Homo sapiens: one gene and its partner. The protein of the gene in region 1 purifies or fractionates together with the protein of each later gene. This does not show direct contact. Each region holds a gene or a part of one and is shown on either strand. Other genes may lie near its edges.

The links.
Region 2: the proteins of DNAJC6 (region 1) and CLTA purify together in Homo sapiens (affinity purification with mass spectrometry; 2 studies listed by BioGRID and IntAct, with this or other methods). This does not show direct contact.

Annotation. Positions count from the first base shown.
Region 1 is NC_000001.11:65,304,150-65,314,118, reverse strand, and holds the start of DNAJC6 (auxilin), read right to left. Parts: upstream 4,577-9,969; 5' UTR 4,374-4,576; coding exon 4,181-4,373; intron 2,876-4,180; exon of another isoform or gene 1-2,875. UniProt on the Homo sapiens protein: May act as a protein phosphatase and/or a lipid phosphatase.
Region 2 is NC_000009.12:36,200,141-36,209,962, forward strand, and holds part of CLTA (clathrin light chain A), read left to right. Parts: intron 1-3,927; coding exon 3,928-4,039; intron 4,040-4,580; exon of another isoform or gene 4,581-8,414; intron 8,415-9,126; coding exon of another isoform or gene 9,127-9,180; intron 9,181-9,822. UniProt on the Homo sapiens protein: Clathrin is the major protein of the polyhedral coat of coated pits and vesicles.

The DNA of each region.
Region 1 (9,969 bases):
AGAAATCCTTACCTATCATTATACTTATTCTTTAAAAAGTATTAATATCTGTTTCCAGATTTTAATTGGACTACTCTTTTTCAGTTTGTCATTATGAACTTGGTAAATTAAGCCCAATATTGGAACACTTTAGCAGCTCAATATTGAAAGTTCTACTTTTGTGGTTCTACTTTCCCTGAAAAGTGGGGTGCACACAAGAGAAATAGGGGGTTTTCGGCATTGGGATAGTGCAGTGCCTTTGAGATATGACAGGATGACCTTTAAATGACAACCTTTTCTAGAGAATAATTTGAATGAAGAGAAAGTGAGCCAGGGAAGGCAGAGAGCTCTGGAAGTCACATCTGGCTAGGAGACTGCTCTGGTATCTACCACTTGAGAGGCTGTTGACTTAGAAAGCCATTACATTCCTCTGAACATGTACCCCTCTTTTATCTAAAAACAGGGGGGAAATCAAAGTAGATAAAAATGTTTCCATTTCAACAATCAGTTGATATTGTGTCTACCCAAAAGTTTAGTTCAATGGGGAAAAACTCAAACCTTTGAGTCAGAAGACCTAAGTCTGGCTGTCATTATCTATTCTACCTTTGATAGGTCTCCTACCACCTCTGAGAATAAGTTTCTTCATATGATAAATTGAAAGGGCAAGATACAAAGTAAAGAAAAACTGCAAATGTATTTTTATATTGTTTTCAGCCTCAACTAAAGCTCTGTGGTAAGAACAGCTCTTATGATTCCACTTTTATAAATGGGAACAGGCCAAGCATGGTGGTTCATGTCTGTAATCCGAGCACTTTGGGAGGGAGGCCGAGGTGGTCAGATCGCTTGAGCCCAGGAGTTTGAGACCAGCCTGGGCAACATGGCAAAAAACCCCATCTCTACAAAGAAAAAAAAAAAAAAAATTAGCCAGGCATGGTGGTTCATACCTGTAGTCCCAGCTACTCAAGAGGCTGAGGCAGGAGGGTCATTTGAGCCCAGGAGGTCCAGACTGCAGTGAGCCATGATCACACCACTGCACTCCAGCCTGGGCAATGGAGCAAGACCCTGTAATCACAGCACTTTGGGATGTCAAGGCGGGCAGATCACTTGAGACCAGGAGTCCGAGACCAGCCTGGCCAACATGGCAAGAGCCCGTCTCTACTAAAAATACAAAAATTAGCCGGGTGTGGTGGTGCACGCCTGTAATCCCAGCTACTTGAGGGGCTGAAACACAAGAATTGTCTGAACCCGGGAGGTGGAGGTTGCAATGAGCTGAGATCGCACCACTGCACTCCAGCCTGGGTGACAGAGCTATCTGTCTAGAAAAGAAAAGAAAAAGGTTACTAGGTTTTTCAGCGAGTAACAATAATGCAGAGGTTTGATCCCAAGTCTCCAAGCACAGACACATGCTGCTTCCCCAACCTATTTAATAAAATTCTGGGGAAATGAAATAAGAGAATTGTCCAAGTGTTCTATTATAAACAGTCTTACAAGTTTAAGGTATTATTAAGACTAAGCTTTAAATCATGTAGCGAGATGTCAACATATTTTTTCCACTCATTAATATTTCTATCAGAGCAAAAGTCCCATAAACCACTGATCCTATCCAGCATGTCACAGTACAATCAGTTGAATAAATGGGCAGATTACTGCCACTTTAGAAATGATCCATGAACTTAATTAGATATACTAAACAAATGGATATATTTACACTGCACAGGCCACACTTTGAGGATCTTAGAAGAAAGAACTATAATTAGGCAAGACATATAGTTGTACTAGTAAAAGAATCCTACTCTCAGAGTCCAATCCTTCATTCAAACCAAACAAATCATTCTCAGTTGAAAATATGCATCAAAATCATTGTAAGATACCCTGTACTTCTACAACAAAGCCACAATATTCCCCTAATAAAATATAGGAGTGAATGATGGATAAGGGGAGGAGAAAAGGAATCCCTGCAGCCTCTTCACACAACACCACTTTGATCAAGTTTAAGAATCAACTCCTGGCAATAGCACTTTAGAGATAACAATATTCTTAATGAAACACTTTCCCATCACAACAGATTATTAAAGCAATCCATTATTCTTCTCTCCACCTATTAAAAAAGTCTGATTTAGTGAAAAAGACAATCCTCAAAAATCCAGGACTTACCATAGGCTGCTCTGTGTTATAGTTACTGCCCCCACTGAGAGTCCCCTAGAGGCCAGAAGGATCTCATTCACTACTGTGTTCCCTCACAGTGCTTGGCACATAGCTGGGCTCAGAAAATGTATGTTGAACTTATTCTACAATGTAACATATTTCAAAAACCAATTTCAACTCTTAAAATAATAATCCCTATGAAAAAGGAAAACATATGTATTTCATATTTCTTTCATTTTCCTGAAGTGAGGCTCCTTCACACTCATTTGGAATATGTTTGTTTTCATTTCAATTGTTTACATGCTCACTACATGTAAACATTATTATGGTGGCATCATTCAGAGAACATGAATCTTTTTAAGATTTAAAGGAGATTACATCCAGTCAAAAGATGGATTACACTTTGATATATCACAGATTTGAAAAAACATACATTGAATAACCACATACAACATCAATAAAAAAGTCCTGCCTGGGCGCGGTGGCTCATGCCTGTAATCCCAGCACTTTGGGAGGCCGAGGCAGGCAGATCACCTGAGGTCAGGAGTTCAAGACCAGCCCGGCCAACATGGCAAAACCCCGTCTCTACTAAAAGTACAAAAATTAGCCGGGCATGGTGACAGGTGCCTGTAATCCCAGCTACTCAGGAGGCTGAGGCAGGAGAATCGCTTGAACCCGGGAAACGGAGTTTGCAGTCCGCCGAGTTCGCATCCCTGCACTCCAGCCCGGGCAACAGAGTGAGACTCCGCCTCAAAAAAAAAAAAAAAAAAAAAAAAAAACAGTCCTGAAACCATCAATCCCTTGGGGATCATTTTAGTTTTATTTAAAATGGTCTAAGAGAATGTCCCATCAATATCTTGGTTAACTTCAATAAGAGCTTCAATGAGTAGAATTTGTTTTCAGCCCAGGACATTTGAGCATCTGTGGACAATATTTCATCCCACTTTGGGACAAGGAAAATAGAAAATAATAGCCCAAGGACAGCCATTACACAATTAAAATAAACAAGCATTTGTTTGCAAAGCAGGGCATTTAAATTCAGTTTGATTTCATTACTGTTCAAACGACCCCATATGAATCTTTCCTCTGGAATCCTCAGTTGTCCAGTATTAAAGTTACCAGTGTAGAACCAACCACTGAGGACTTCAATTATAAATATCTCTGTAAACAATTCTCCGAACCTGGTTCCCTGCAGAAGTAAGCAAATAGCTATAATAATACTCCTAGTCCAACATGGATATATTAAATGACTGTTTTGCTATTGAAATCGCAAATGCCAACAGCAGTTCCAAGAGAGGACTCTAACTTGCCAAACCTTTTATAAAAGACAGTTGCAAGCCCCGATACAAAGTTTAGAGGAATTTCCTTGTCCCTACATGTAAAGGTTTATGAAATCTGTACACTCAAGCAAAAGGACAAACAAGATCAAAGCCAACACATGAAATAAATTTCATTGTGCAAACAGTAAAAGCTGTGTAAAAGAGCTCTAGATCCCAGGTTAAAAACTGCAGGAGAAAGGTAACATTAACCCTAGCAGACGGCTGAGTTAAGATGTGGCAGAGCTTTACAGAATTGCAAATAGCATCAGCATTGCAAGAATAACAATTGGAATAAATACCGTCTGCATGCTGCAAAAACAATCAACGCACATGCTCCTTCACCTCTCCCCCTCATCCAGCTGGGCAGTGAAAGCAGCTGCCTCTCCCAGCCCTCCTCCCAAGCCGTTCTTCGCCCCACCCGCTCCCCTCTCTTCTCCACCCCTCCCCTCCTCCTTCCCTCCCCCTCCCCGCCCCCAGCTGCCGTATTCAGCAGTCTAGAGAGATTAGGAGGAGCTCGCTACAGTCTCTGGGCCTCAGGACTGATCTAACGTTTCGTAGCTCCCTGGATGAGAGAAATTAGAGACTCGACACCCAGGTGGTATTAGAAGCCTTCGCCTCCAGCCCGGCTCTCTCGCAAACCGGGGCTGGGGGACCACGGGGGGGCCTCGGGCCGGGCGACTGGGAGGCTCCGGAGGCCGCGCGGGGCTCAGCGCTGCACTCCCCTCGGGCAGCGCTACCTGAGCTGTCCATGGTGCTGGCGCGGTCCGGAGGCTGTCGGGCGGGACTCCGCGCCGCTGCCCCGGCGTTCACTCTCTGCTTGCCGCCAACCCCGCCGCTTCCCGCACTTAAGTCCCCGTTACTGTCCACCAGCTGCAAAGATTCATAACCATCGTTGCTGGTCTTTTTCCGGTAGCTCCCGAGGAGGCTCATGGGCAAGCCCGGAGAAAAGAGAAAATAATCAACCTGGGAAGCGAAAAGGGAGATGGAAGGTGGAAAGGGCTGAAGAAGGAATTAAAAAAAAAAAAAAATTAAGTGCCCGACATGACGCAAAGAGGAGGGAAAAGAAGGAGCGGCCACCGGAGAGAAGCTTCGCCGGGCGAGGCGAAGCCGCCGCCCTGGGCTGAGCTCGGCTCGGGGCGCCGGGAGGAGGGAGGGAGGGAAGGAGACGCGGCCGGGCGGGGGCGCGCGTCCTCTGGGCCAACGCCGCGGAGCCGCCCGGCCCTGCCGAGCTCCGGGCCCCAGGCCAGCACCTCCTGGCTGAGGAGTGCCCGGAAGCAATCCTATAGGTGTCGCCGCGTCGCCCCGCCGCGCAGCAGGGCAGCGCCAAAGCCGCTGGCCCGCGGGGAGGGAAGGAAAGGGAGGTAGGAAGGGAGGGGAGGTTCGTGAGGAGGGGGGTTGAAGGGAAACGGGGCGGGGTGGTCGGGGGAGGGGACTACTACGACGTGGGTTGGGAGGGTGTGTTCGCACGCGTGTGACAGAGAAGAAAGGGGCGAGGTATCTCGGCCTGCGAAGCTTTGAGGACCAGGGGTCTTGTGGTAAAATCCAGACACACCCATTTCATGCAACTTAGCCTATTTTCACCGGAAGATTCCGCCAAAGCCACCAGGACGGTAACCGTCCTAGAGAACTGACTTGTAACTCAATTCAACAGAAAAAGAATGCATGTTAAGTGCCAGAATATATCTATGCTAGGATATAAAGGAAGAGCAATATTTTGCACATTCTCCAGAATAGGGATGATCCCTAAGGGAGATATCAAAGAGTTGGGTATTCTAATACTAGGAGGCAGCGTCCGTTCTGCCTAGAGAGCAGATGTGACTGTTTAGAACTCTTTGTTGAGCGAATAAACTGGGGAGAAGGGCAAGGTTAAGTCCGACGCATTTTCAGATCCGCCACCATTTACCTTAGGACCTGGAGAAAAGACTGTTTCAGTTAGCTAGCTTGAAGGCCTGCTTGGGAAGCAAGATAGACAAGGATTTTTTTTCCCCATCCTCTAGCCTCACGCCTTATTTTTCTTTCACAATTCTGGCCAAAGAAAGCAGTAACTCATAATCAGAAGAGAATTTATCATGAAGTTAATTAAGCTGTGTACCTAATTTTGTATCTGTCATCGTGTATTCTTAAAAGAAGACTCCGACATTGTATAAGTTCTGGATCTGAACAAAACCTGGATAAACTCTGGTAAGTCTTAAAATGTAATTATCGAATGTTTATTTTCACCTAAAATAATAAGATTTCAGAAGGATTGCTCATTCTCATCATCTTAGGTCAAGATCAAGTAAGTCTTGGTTAAAAATTATCATTTTCTCTACTAAAACTTGGAGGGACTAAGTGAGGCGCCCGTCAAGAGTCATTTGACAGAGTTTCCTCACCAAAACAGGAAAAAAGTACGTGCATGTAAAATGTACTTGAGCCCATACACAAAGCCAGCTTTGCTTTCTTCTCATCTTACATGGTTTTCTCTTGCTGTCCTTATATCAATCACCTAAGGACACAAAATCAAACAATAGCATCTAAGAGACTTCAGTCCAGATGATTTGGGTCTCAGAAAGTTTCCGGGAAGCTCTAGCTCTACACAGTTCTACATAAAATAAATTGGACTAAGAGACATTTTCCTGTACAAGGATCACCCAAACACAGATTCTTGTAGGAAGAGCATCAACCAGAAGAAGTCCAAAGAAATGTTTTCTAAATCCTTCCAGTCCTTCTGGGGAAACCTAAACTTCCTGGCCAGTTGCTTTCCCAACTGCATTCTTTGATGAGGTATGGTGTGACCTGAATTGCAAATCAGAGTTAATGCTCATTTATAACAAGATCAAACAATCTGAATGGTGGCAGGAAAAACTGCAATAAAAATTTTAAAACAAATTTTTATACTTTCAATTTTCCAAATCTGTCAGATTGAATTATTTTAGTTACTTGACTAAAGTAATAATTCTGTGAAGTCTAGTAAATCTTTTCCCATAACATCTTAAATAATCTTTCTCTGTACTTTTTCTTTTAATTCATTACAGACACACAGGGACAGTAAATACCTAGTGTTCATCATGTGCCCTGACAAATGCTGGACTATAATCATTGGATTAATAGAATTTAGAACCAGCCTCAGTGACAGACTGAGACCCTGTCTCAAAAAATAAATAAATAAATACAGGATCATTTTTGAAAAGTGAAAATTATTATTTTCAAAAAGAGCACTTTCAGTTATTTTTGCTCAACTTGCAGACATATTGCTGAAAGAAATTATAGATGAGACATATGCCTTTGTATTTTTCAATATCTATCTCTGGAGTTTGCAAGTGTAAAGAAAAATCTGAATGGGCTATAAGAATTTTATCTTTATACTTAATATAAATAAAGTCAATCAGGATAACTATTAATAATCCTATAAAATTGAAGATATAAGAAGCATATTAAGGCAGGAAAATACAATAACTAGGTTAATTTACAACAGCCTAAAAACTAGGGCTTGGGCCTAAATTTGGATATGCACCAATTTCAACATTAAAATTTTCTTTACTGTGCTAAAGATCAAATTCATATACTTATCAATGAATATCTCACTGTTCTACTCTATAAAACAAGCATAATATGAGTACCATCATTATATAGAAGAATTAGATTAGTACCTAACATATATATATATATATATATATAGAGAGAGAGAGAGAGAGAGAGAGAGAGAGAGAGAGAGAGAGAGAGAAACAGATTGAGAGAGAGAGTAGTACTTAACAATTGTTCTCTATTACCATTATTGGTCTGTCTTGGGTGCAGCTTTAAGCTCAGCGCCTGGCAGTCTTAGTTTTTCAAATGGGAAAAGCTCAATAAAGGCTAAATATTATTTTTTCCAGGGATATCCTAATGGAAAATTGTCTTTGTAACTTTGAATGAGAATTTGGGCTTAAGGGAGGTGGCACTGGTCAAACACAAGGTGAACATTTACAGCCTAACTCTTGGTTTTCCAAACTCAAGACTACTTCATAACTTATCTCAAAAATACTACATCATACATGAGACAACGGCAAAGGATAAGATGCCCTCTTCTGGGGACAGCAATCATTCCCTTTGTCTTTTCTCTTGCTGCCTTCAGGTGCTTTATTAACTTGATGAAGATTAGTGACACTGAGGAATACTGAGGAACCAGGCTCTATTCCACCCCATCCCCTTCATACACACCTCATTCCAAATGCTATCCTGTCACAGCAGATGCCACATCACTTTTGGGGTGGGCTAAGAGATCAAGGTATGTATGCCATGACCTATGTAGGATTTTGATCTGTGATTTTCATTTCCAGAGAATATAATACATTGATTAAAATTGAAGTTGCCAGCCAGGTGTGGTGGCTCACACCTGTGGTCCTGGCACTTTGGGAGGCTGAGGTGGGCGGATCACGAGGTCAGGAGATTGAGACCATCCTGGCTAACACGGTGAAACCCTGTATCTACTAAAAATCCAAAAAAATAACCAGGCGTGGTGGCAGGCACCTGTAGTCCCAGCTACTCAGGAGGCTGAGGCAGGAGAATCGCTTGAACCCAGGAGGTGGAGCTTGCAGTGAGCCAACAAAGCGAGACTCTGTCTCAAAAAAAAAAAAAAAAAAATTGAAGTTGCCTATGATTGATTCTTAGTTCCAATGACTCCTGGCTCTATGACTTTGGGCAAGTTACTTAACCTCTCTGCCTCATTTTTCTCCTCTGTAAAGTGAGGATTATAGTAATGCCATCATAATAAGGTTATAGTAAGAAGTAAATTAGTTCCTAACATATAATAAGTGCTTAACATATGCTATCTATTATTACTATCATTCCACTTCTTTTTAAAATGTCACTTTTTCAAAAATGCAACTTCCCATCTGTAAAATTAAGTTTAAATCTGCCCAGCTTACCTAAGAGATTTGTTATCATTATGACTATGATAACATAAAAGCAGTTTGTCAAATGTGAACTGATTGTTTTGCCCTGAGTTTTTAAATATTCACGTGTATGTATTTCCTATTGGATTTGGACTCTTTGAGGGCAAAAATCCATGTTTTGTTCATGTTTGTGTCCCCCATGACACTCCAAAGAGCACCTCGCTCTCATTAGATATTGAGTAAATATCTACTGAATTAATGAATAAACAAAAATGTCATGGCATTACCTAGTCCAGTGATTTAAACTATATGCTGTAGCCGATGAGTAAATTATAAAGTATTTTCATAAAAATGAAATAGGTTGGAAAACATCAGAGTTTGGAACGCAGTAAGATATTGTTTCTTAAAATATTGTTTTGGGTTTGTGTGATATGTATGAGTGTGTGTATGTTTCTGCTCAGTAATGATATAAATGTATTTCTCACTGTGTGTCCTGATTATAAATGTTTTTGAATGTCTATGTTATGGGACAATCTCTGGTACTAAGAGGTCCTAGTGTTCCCAATTATGAATGTCCTATACACTGTGACATCTGAATTCATTTGGCTAATTGGACCACAAAGAGTTTTGGCTAAGCAGACAGTAAATGAAGCCAGAGCTTCTACTCTGTTCTCTCTGTTACAAAATATATTATGATCAGGTTTCTAAAATGCGTCTCTTCAATTTTCTGTTTTAACAAACATAAATCAATGCACAGTATTGAAACTTACTTTGGCAATGTGCCTGAGGGCCATAATCCAGATTATCTCCTTATTGAATAAGGCCTATAGATATACATAGTGCAAGGCACTTCAACTGGGGAACATCAAGCCATCTCTGACTCCCAGATGTGTTTTGTCGGTCCTGTACTTCTTAAAATGAAAAACATTTTAGTTTAGATGCCTTTACAGAGGGTATATAGGCTCCAGTCTGAGGACCATAGTTCACTACTACTTCCCAATGTAGAATACTCAGCCTCCTCCACTCATTCCTATTACCAGTTAGCCCTTGCAGGCATTTGAGTTTGAGACCTGCAGTGTAGTGGCAAAACCTTAAGGAGAAATACCCCCAAGAGAGATGCCAAAAGACACATCTTTAGGCCACAGTCCAGAAGAAAGCAAAATAGACCGAGAATCCTCTCCTGACTCTGCTCTTAATCAGCAGGGTGGCCTTGATCCATTCTCCTTCTCTCAGCAGTAAAATCGAAGATGTGGAATTACATGATTCTCTTCAGTTCTCAAAACTTTAGTTGTCACTTCCCTCTCTCCTCCAAATGATGTCCATAGGGGAAAACCATAGTCATTTAAGTGCTACAGTTTGCTGTGTCCCAGTTAATCAAGGTTTTGCTATAGAAATGCATGCATAAATAGTAGCAGCTGTCAAGAGCGACATATAAAGCAACACACAAGATAGAAGAGGAGGTCTGCTGGAAAAAATCGGGTGAGCTGATGGATGACATTTAACAGAAGAAAATCTGAACTATTCCTATAATGTTTCTTAGGAGTGGGGATATCTGTTCTTGGTGTTTGATGGGGTTCTGGGTCTTCCAGAAAATAGGACAAATTTCCCAGGTAGGGCTTTTTTTTTTTCTTTAAGATAACCCAATATCATGAAACCTGTGTTTCCTTGATGCTCTA
Region 2 (9,822 bases), on another chromosome or scaffold:
GTATGCAGAGTGTGAGGATATAATCCACATTGTGGCCTTTTCTTTGTTTTTTCTTTTTCTTTTTTTAATCAGCTGACTTTAAGATTCATCTTTTCTCAACTTTACAGAACAATTGAAAGGAGGAAAATAAACATGTGCACCCCCAGATTCAGTAATTAATGGATTATCTTTATATAAATGATATGTTTTAGACATACACACACACAAATTGTTTTGGCTGACCTACTTTAAGATAAAGACATCATATACTTTGTGTCTAAATATTTCAATGTACACCTCCTAGAAATAATGACATTCTCCTATGTAACCACAACGTCAGCAGTATTATTCCCTCTTGGGAACTGTTGAACTAGTGAAAACATGAGTCCTTATTTTTCAGATGGGATAACTGACACCCAGAAATAGGAAGGGACATGACCCAGATGACACAGCCAATTAGTGCCAAATCATTTATCTCTCTAGTCCAATTTAGGTGGCTTTCAGAACAAAGAATGCACTTAGTATTTGAACCTTTATAGCACCATTCATTAGTGATTTCTTTGGTGGAAATATTCTGTATCTGTGCTGTCTCGTATGGTAGCCACTAACCACATGTAACTGTTAAGTACTTGAAGTGTGGCTTCACAATTCAAGTGTGACTGAGAAACTGAATTTTAAATTTTCTTTAATTTTAATAAATTTACATTGAAGTAGCCACATGTAGCTAGTAGCTACCATATTGGACAGTGGAGCTGTAGGAAGATGAAAATAGGTCCTAACAGCTTTGGTCCTTGCTTGTTCTTTGTGTCTCTTGAGTATGCTTAGAGGCAAGATTTAGCTGGTCTTAGTACTGCTGTAGTATTTTTCATGTTACAGAACCCAAATTTATCTTTTCTGTTTTACCAAGCTCTAGCAGTTTTTCTTCTCCATGGAGAGAGTCTACTTTGGTGTCTGGAAAGATTTAATTTTTCAATTATGAAATTGGGTACTTGGGGAATACTCTTATGAGCTGTTTTCTTAATTCAAAGTGCTTTTTTTGAGAGAAGTACAACATTTGGCCTTGCATTCCAACTGAATTGAATTCACTTGGTTCATGAACAAGGTGTTCCTTCAATTTCACCTTTTTTCCTTGCAAAAACTGTGAGAAAGCACGCGATGCTAAAAATAGAGAACCGGTGCCAGTGGTTTTCAGCCTAGCTGCTGGCTACATTCTCAAGTAATTTTCTTTTCTCTGACCAGTAACGAGGGTGGCCAGAAGGGAAGGCACCTGTGAATGTGCTTTGCTCTCTAAGGGGACTCTTCCTCTTCATCCTCTGAGGGGAAGAATTCTAAATTAGTATTGCAGTGGCACTAAAGCTGCAAAAGCCAGAAGACCAATTTAAATGTACTATTTTATGCAGTAACCACAGTCTGTTCAGGAGGTCACCATTTTTATTTAATTTCATTTTTCAGAGATAAATTTTATATTTTAGTCCTAATGTATAGTAAATGTTAACATCAAAATACATTGAAAGAAAATACTGTCCAATCAAAAAGGTAATTATTTGGAAGTAATTTCACCATGATTGAAAAGGGGGCCTTACATTTTGAATTAGGTATTGTCACATGGCACTTCCAGCCCACAGCTTCTCATTGCAGCATAGCTAAATCTTGCATTCCACATCTGTACTTCATGCCATGGATAGACACATATTAGATGTTTACTGTAGAGGCTAGGTGGTGTGGCTCAGGTCTGTAATCCCAGCACTTTAGGAGGCTGAGGTGGGAGGATCACTTGAGCTCAGGAGTTCAAGACCAGCCTGGGCACCATAGTGAGACCCTATCTCTACTAAAAAAAAAAAATTAGCTGGGGGTTGTGGTGCACGCTTGTGGTCCCAGCTGCTTAGGAGATTGAGGTGGGAGGATCACTTGAGCCTGGGAGATTGAGGCTGCAGTGAGCTGTGATAGAACTACTGCAGTACAGCCTGGGCTACAGAGCGAGACCCTATCTCAAATAAAACAAAAAAAAGTTTACTGTATATACTTTAGAGTCATCAGTGAAAAATCTGAGAAAATGATTCTTCTGAACGACAGATCACCTTCCGACAAATTAGATACCGAGATGAACGTTCCTACTAACCTGAAACTTGGGGGAGTTTCTAGCTGCTATTAGGCTTTTTCTTATAGTTACACACAGCCTTTTGCAGGTTGTTACTATAAGACCTTTCTTGCAAAGGCCCTAAAAATGCCCAAGAATACTTCATTTTTCATCCCTTCTAGTAGTTACTTGACACCGCTACTGCTATCTACTCTCCTTCTCAAAGACACTAATTACAGTTTGGGCTCTTGGTCTGCACTTTCAAAACTCTGTCCAGATCACTGGTGGTCACGTTTTGTGATTATTTCTAGGCTTGCCTCCCTTTCTGTCCCTCCCTTTGGAGGAAGCATAATGAGGTAAGCAAAGTGTAAGCTTTACAGCCAGATCTGGGTTTGAATCTTGGCTCTGTCACTTACTATAACCTTTAGGAAATTCACTCAAACTTTCTGAGCTTTAGTTTTTCTCACTGCTGAAAATGTGATCAGAGTTTACCTTCTTGGGATTGTTGTAAAGATTGAGTTAGATGTCTATAAAACACCTGCCAGACAGAAGAACTTGTTTAAAGTGAAGTATCAGGTTAACTTCAAGTGTCAGCTGCCTCAGTAGCTATGACATGTATTTCTTTTTTTTTTTTTTCTTTTTTGAGACAGAGTCTCACTTTGTTGCCTAGGCTGGAGTGCAGTGGTGCGATCTCAGCTCACTGCAACCTCTGCCTCCCAGATTCAAGCGATTCTCCTGCCTCAGCCTCCCCAGTAATCCCCAGTAGCTGGGATTATAGGCATGCACCACCACATCCAGCTAATTTTTTGTATTTTTAGTAGAGACGGGATTTTACCATGTTGGCCAGGCTGGTCTCGAACTCCTAACCTCAGATGATCCACCTGCCTCGGCCTCCCAAAGTGTTGGGATTACAGGCGTGAGCCACCACAAGCAGCCGGCATGTATTTCTTTATCTCTCACTATCTACTGATGTATGTCTCTTCAGCTTAGTGTCTTAGAGAAAACCATATTTAGTCCTCAGAAACTTCATGTTTCATGTTTGAGAATCCAATCTAGCAAACCTGCTAGGTATGCATTTTCTTGCTGTCATTTCTAGAACCTTTAGGTTAACTGTTAGCAATGATCCCATACCTCTACCCCCTGCACTTCTCTCCAGTGGAGTTTCTTTTGTAGCTCTGCCCTGGCTCTGCCACAAACACACTGCAGACCAAGTAGGAGTAGATGCTTTGTGGTCCTCTCTAGTGCTAATATTCTGTGTTCTATCATTCTCTGGTTCCTGAATCATCTCTACCTTTGGTAATTGTCCTAATAGCACCCTGCCTCACAGAAGTGCTTCTACCATATTTAGTTATGAGAGTGCCACCTTGTGTTCCACAAAACCATTGTCAAACCTGGAATATGGACTAGTTTGGGAGAAGAGGTAAAAGATTAAGATGAATACCCTACTATGAACTAATATTGGCAGCATTGGTAAAGAATCATCTATAATTGTTTCTCCCCCAATTGGTGCCCAGAAGGCTTTTTTCCTATTAATAATAGAAGTCAGTATTTCCACATACACCCTTCTCTTTTGCTCTGCCCAAAACAAGACAAAACAAAACTAATGACCCACTAAGATGTCAGTGGACTGGGATAAGACCAGGAATAGGACTGTGGGAAAGACCAGGCAGGAATAGAAGCACTGAAATCAGAGTTGGTTGTGCAAACAGAGAAAACAGAAGTTTATCTTCCCCTCTCTACTCTTCTCCCCCAACAGGCACACAGACATGGACCTGCACCCACCACAAGTTCAGCAAGACCAAAATAAACTGATGAACTTCAGTTTGCACTTTGCCTCAATTGTATTGTCTTTCTCTTCTCTCCCTTCAAAGATGCCAATTCTCGGAAGCAAGAAGCAGAGTGGAAAGAAAAGGCAATAAAGGAGCTAGAAGAATGGTATGCAAGACAGGACGAGCAGCTACAGAAAACAAAAGCAAACAACAGGTCAGTCCGTGGTGGTTGTAGCACACTTTGTTTTCCAAAATTGAATCAAATCCATTCTCAGCATCCAGTCTCGGTTTTTGGCTTCTGCCTCCTTTAGTGTGAAATGTCTGCAGTTTTTAAAGAAAGTGCTTGAAACAGGTTGCAAGTCTCTCGGGTCTTGTGAGCATAATTCACCCTATTGTTTAGCCATCCCAATTGTAGTGAGCTTAGCTCTCTGAGAGTTTGGTTAATATGCATAACCTGTAATGGTGTGATTCAGCCAAGGGAAAAGTTACTTTCCATGGAACCCTGAAACGAAAGCTGGGTGTCATGAATACACCCAGATCTAGTTACTTTGGATATGATTATAGACTTGGTCATGTTGAGTCTCCTCAATATAGCCCTGCCCCCTGAAAGCCACTTCATGAAGGGGTCCGTTGGCAGGAATATGTGCTTTGTAATTAGGCAGCCAAGGATGTTCCAACATGATTATTTTAGAATTGAGGGTTCTGTGGGTACTTATTTGTGCCTTAAAAAGTCTTGAATTGACTTCTTAAAAATGTTCTGTTTGAAATAGATTTTATTTAGTTACTGATGGTTAAGGAGTTGTGAGGAGAAAAACGCTTTCATTCTCATATCACTACTCACCAGCAGCTGGGCTTTAATGCCCTACACTTAGAGCCCTTCTTGGAAGCAGCAAAGAGAGGATATGTGGTGTTGCTTCCCTCAGGGCAGGCAGGTTCAGAGCCCAACTTTCACTGAATAGTCAATCCATTCACTTCAGTGTATAAACGGGCCAGACCGAGCCTGGGGATATTTTTAATTTTCAGGGTAGAGCCTTGGGTTCTCGTATGCAGAGGCAGGAAGCAGGTTGGGTTAAGTGCCCTTGTCTCTGGCAGCTCTGTTAGACAGAGATGTGGCAGGAGAGAGAGCTAACGGCTTTGCCAGCCAGCCAGTGCTATTGTGGGTCCAGTATGACAGAGCAGTTGGACTCTCTTTTATATGCTAGCAGCCCTTCAGCTCATTGGATTCCGGCTTGAGCCTGTGTCCTGGTCACTTTCCTCTGGGGGCGGTGTGCTCAAGGAGTGCCTGTCAGGTTCCATGTGGAGTCCACAGGACTCCACAGTCCCAGTCCCACAGGACTGCTCTCTGGTGTGCAGGCTGGGTTGCCAGTGGTGATGGCTTCCATCAGCTACGTGGGGCTGTTGTTGAGCCTGTGGTCAGTAGGTGGTGCTGACAGGTCCAGGCTCCTGTGTCCTCTGCTCCCTCAAGATGATTTTCTCCCAGGTGGAAGTTCAGATCGGTAAAGCCGAGTGGGGACTGTGTGCAAGCACCCTGCGAGCCCTGAGAACTCCCCCAGCCTGCGACCCCAGCATTTAAGTTTAGTCTGAAGTACTGTAGCTGTGCCGACCCTCCCCGCTCTGGGTCTGTGATGCGTCAATAACTTAACACAAGTTTTCAAACTTAGATAATGAATATGTTGGTAACAGCCTTTCTGTTGCAGAAATTTTTTTCAAGGAAGTTTTGCTGAACTGTCAAGAAAGGGATATTCTCTGTATACAGAATCCGTTGTTCTCAGAGGGAGTAATGACACCTGTTTTTTTTTTTTTTTTTTTTTTGAGATGGAGTCTTGCTCTGTTGCCCAGGCTGGAGTGCGGTGGTGCGATCTCGGCTCACTGCAAGCTCCACCTCCTGGATTCACGCCATTCTCCTGCCTCAGCCTCCCGAGTAGCTGGGACTACAGGTGCCCGCCACCATGCCCAGCTAATTTTTTTCTGTTTTTAGTAGAAACAAGGTTTCACTGTGTTAGCCAGGATGGTCTCGATCTCCTGACCTCGTGATCTGCCTTCCTTGGCCTCCCAAAGTGCTGGGATTACAGGCGTGAGCCACCGCGCCTGGCCATGACACCTGTTTTTAGGAGCTCAGTCTTAAAAGTTTAGTCCCTCCAGGCATTGAATTTGGGCCTTGGTACCTTTCTGTACTTGGAACTGTAGAATGCTGGGTAAGCTGGTCTCACAGATGAACCTCTTAAGTTCCAGAGAGAAGGAACTTCCCCACTGCTCACTGAGAATGTAGAGCTGCTTAGGAAGCAGGTCACTTGCCTTGTGGGAACCTTGCAGCACAGGGCTGACTCTTGAGAGCATAACGCTAGTGGCACACTAGCCATTGTCACCAGGGCTCTAGGACAGAAGAGATGGTTTTTACAGTTTATTCCAGTGATTCTTCACTGGTTGGAGGTGGGATCCATTTGAGAGTCACTTTGGGGGACTTCTTCCAAGGGTCTACACCCTCCCCTGGAGATTTTTATATTGCTGACTACTCCCCCTCTCCATCCATGTTTGACTCTAAACTTTAGAGTTCAAAGGAATAGGTCCCATTTAGATGTATAAAGTAATTCATCCTTGTTATCTGTCTATGGGTAAAGAGTGAATATTTTTAGAAAAGAAAATGGGGGCCGGACACCGTGACTCAACATCTGTAATTCCAGCACATTGGGAGGCTGAGGCGGGCAGATCACTTGAGGTCAGGAGTTTGAGACCAGCCTGCCCAACATGGTGAAACCCCATCTCTACTAAAAATGCGAAAATTAACTGGGTGTGGTGGTGTGTGCCTGTAATCCCAGCAACTCGGGAGTCTGAGGCAGGAGAATCACTAGAACCCGGGAGGCAGAGGTTGCAGTGAGCTGAGATTGCGCCACTGCACTCCAGCCTGGGCAACAGAGCGAGACTCAGTCTGAAAAAAAGAAAAGAAAAAAGAAAACGGGGTGCTCATTTCAAGCAAGTATGATTCTCTCTGGGTGACTTCTGCAGTAGCTAGATGTTAAGGGGACCCGAGAGATAAGGCAGAAAGATGAGAAGTTTGAAAGAGGAAAGTCGGAGACAGGAAGGGCATCCAGTTAATTGTGAGAGCATCCTCAGGCCTCCTGCCTTCCAGCTGCCTCACCACTGGGTCACCAAAGCACTAGGAGCACGTCGCGCCTGGCACTGCACTGGGGGTGGGTGTGCTGTACTCTATTGTCAGTCCCCAGACTGCATCTCCCTTCTTTTATCCCAAGTTGAGGCCTAAGTGTCACAGTACAAGAGCTGTGAATTATTCAGTGACAGCCATGGAAAAGAATTTCCTTTTCATAGCCAGCCAGCCAGAGCAGTGACTGACTCCTGCAGCTGGATGAGTTTGCTCATCAAGAACAACCCCAGAACATTTCCCCTATTACAGGTAGCACTTGTGCTTGTCAGCTCTTTCAAGGCTTGAGAAGGTTTGGGGAACCCACAGTTCTCAGAGATGGCAAACATTTTTTTCTGTGCCCACTTTGAGGCTGTTTATGGAATGAAGTTCTGCATTGTATTCGTGCCTCCAGAGCTTGTCCTAGGTCAGGTATTCCTCTTCCCTCCCCTCTCCTAAGCCTCCCTGAGCCCCTTCCTGCCTTGGCTGAGGATTGCTACTTTCAAGTGAAGGACAAATAAGGGGAGGGCCACCTGTGTGTGTGTCTGATTTTCTGTTTGTTCTGGGCCTGCAACCTTGACAGGGGATGTGCTTGTCACTGAGGAGCTCTTTGGTCTTGGGCTAGCTGCAAAGGAGCAAGAGCCTGACATTCAAACTTTTGTTGTCTTAGTGATGATTTGACAGGAGTCATGAAACCTCTACTCTTCTTGTGGAGGGAAACCCAAGTTGAAATCGATCAGGTTTAGTCCTTTGTGTAAACTAAAAGGGTTATGGGTTTATAAGCCAGCCTGCCTTGCCTTTTCCTCCCACTCATTCTGCCCACAAACAACTCTGTTTTCCTGCTGAGTCACTTTAAGTTATAATCAGCCTGCTCTTTTTGCTTTCTTTAAATTTCCACAAAACACCTCCTGTGTATAAAACAAAATGGGAAAGAAGGAAGGGCATGTGTGAGCTTAAAAATTAACTTAAAATTACTAGAATTTGCCTTCAAATAAGTATGTGAGGTTAGCTTAATGACCAGGCATGATTATCCTTGAAAAATGTCTTTCCCCTTGCCCACCCCAAATCGACTTGACAAAGGACAGGGTAAGACTCCATGAGGGAGGTTCCATGTCCAGCCACAGTGGAGAAGAGTGGGCTGGCAGAGCCCAGGGAGTCAGTCCAGGACAACAGAGTCAAAGCCAGCCTGGCCCCTGCTGTCAAAATTTATCCACCCAGTCTGCCCCCTCCTTCCTGTCTGAGAGCCCTGCCATGTTGAGAGTTAAGAAGGGATGAAGTTCTGGATTCTGGGCTGCACCTTATCAAAGCCAATTGAGTCTGGTGTAAAAATATTCAGAAACTGTACCCGCTTCTTGAGTAGAGAGAGAGCCATATTCAGGAACAACAGAAGCCAGGGCCAGGATCCTAGTCCAGTGTTCTTCCCACCAGACCACTCACCTCCAGCCGTTTTTTCCTGTAAGGTTGAGATTTTAAAATGACGATATGTGTTCCCAGGATTCTGGAAGTGTATCCCACCCAGACAGTGTGGGGAAGCAGTAGTTAGATAATCCAAGATAAAACTGGCTTTGGGTCCTAGCGCATCTGGTGTCTGGCAGCATTCCTGCCCAGTGCATTAACTGAAACAGGAAGGTGGCGTGGCTTTCTGGGCACATACAGCAGGGAAGAAGCATGACTATACAGTAGAAAGAGCCCTGGACTTAGGGCCAGGCTGCCTTGGTTGTGAGTCCTGAATGCTGCCACTGTGGTGTAGCTGAGCAAGTTGTTCATCTCTAAGCCTCAGTTACCTCATCTGTACAGTGGGGGTGAGAACAGTCAGGGTCATAGGTTGTTAACAGTTAAGGATTGAATCAACATAATGTATGTGAAAGGGCTTAGTCCATGATTGGGTGCTTAATAAATGCCCGTGTTGCTGGGGTGAGCCAAAGGGATGAAGTTGGCAGTGCTTGCTCTGTCGTGGAGCAGTCCCCACGTGGGAAGGCCAGCGGGAAACCAGGCCTGCTGAAGTCTCCAGCGCTGGAAGCCTCACGGGGGTTAGGAAGGAGCCTTGGGAGCAGCTCCTCAGAGCACAGTTGTACCTCAATTGTGGATTTTAGATGTTTCTGCTTCTCAATGTTCTCTCTTTTTTCCTGCCTGCTTGCCTGCCTTTTGGACCTCTTGCTGTCTAGGGTGGCAGATGAAGCTTTCTACAAACAACCCTTCGCTGACGTGATTGGTTATGTGTATGTTGCAAAACTAATTCCTTTTTCTACATCTGATTCTTTCTACTTTTGTTTAGAGTTAATGCTCCTTTTATGTCACAAGTTGCTTTGCTTTTTAAATTATTTCAAATTGGCACTTTGGGGGCTGCCTAAGAATTGATAAGCGGGGTATGATCTGTTGATGAATCTTCCAGATTTGTGACTCCCTGCATCCTCTGATGGCCATTTTTCATATTTGGGGTTTTGGAGGGAAGAAAGCTAACTCGCTTTCAAAATGTGTCATTTGCGATCTTATCTGGGAACGGTTTGAGGCTCGGGGGAACTCTGCTCTCTTGCTCTTGGCTGCCATCACTGCTGCCATGCCCTGTTGCCTGCCTGCCTCAGGTGGGAAGGAGGTTTCCCCACCTGGGAGCAGGTGGCAGTCCCAGGAGGTTAGGAGCCAGTGAGCAGCAGCACCTTGCATTGCCAAAATCAGAGCTGTGGGGCAGCATTTTCCATACTTGGTTCATTCAAACAATGTGGGGTCGTTTGCCTCTCCCTCAGGCAGAAGAGTCCAGAGCAGAGGGGGTTGTCTCCAGTGGGTGTCTATAATTGTTCCTCTGTGGTCTTGCATGTCAGAAATTGCTATTTAGTGGTCAGCTTCTGATGTCCTGTCTCCTAGCA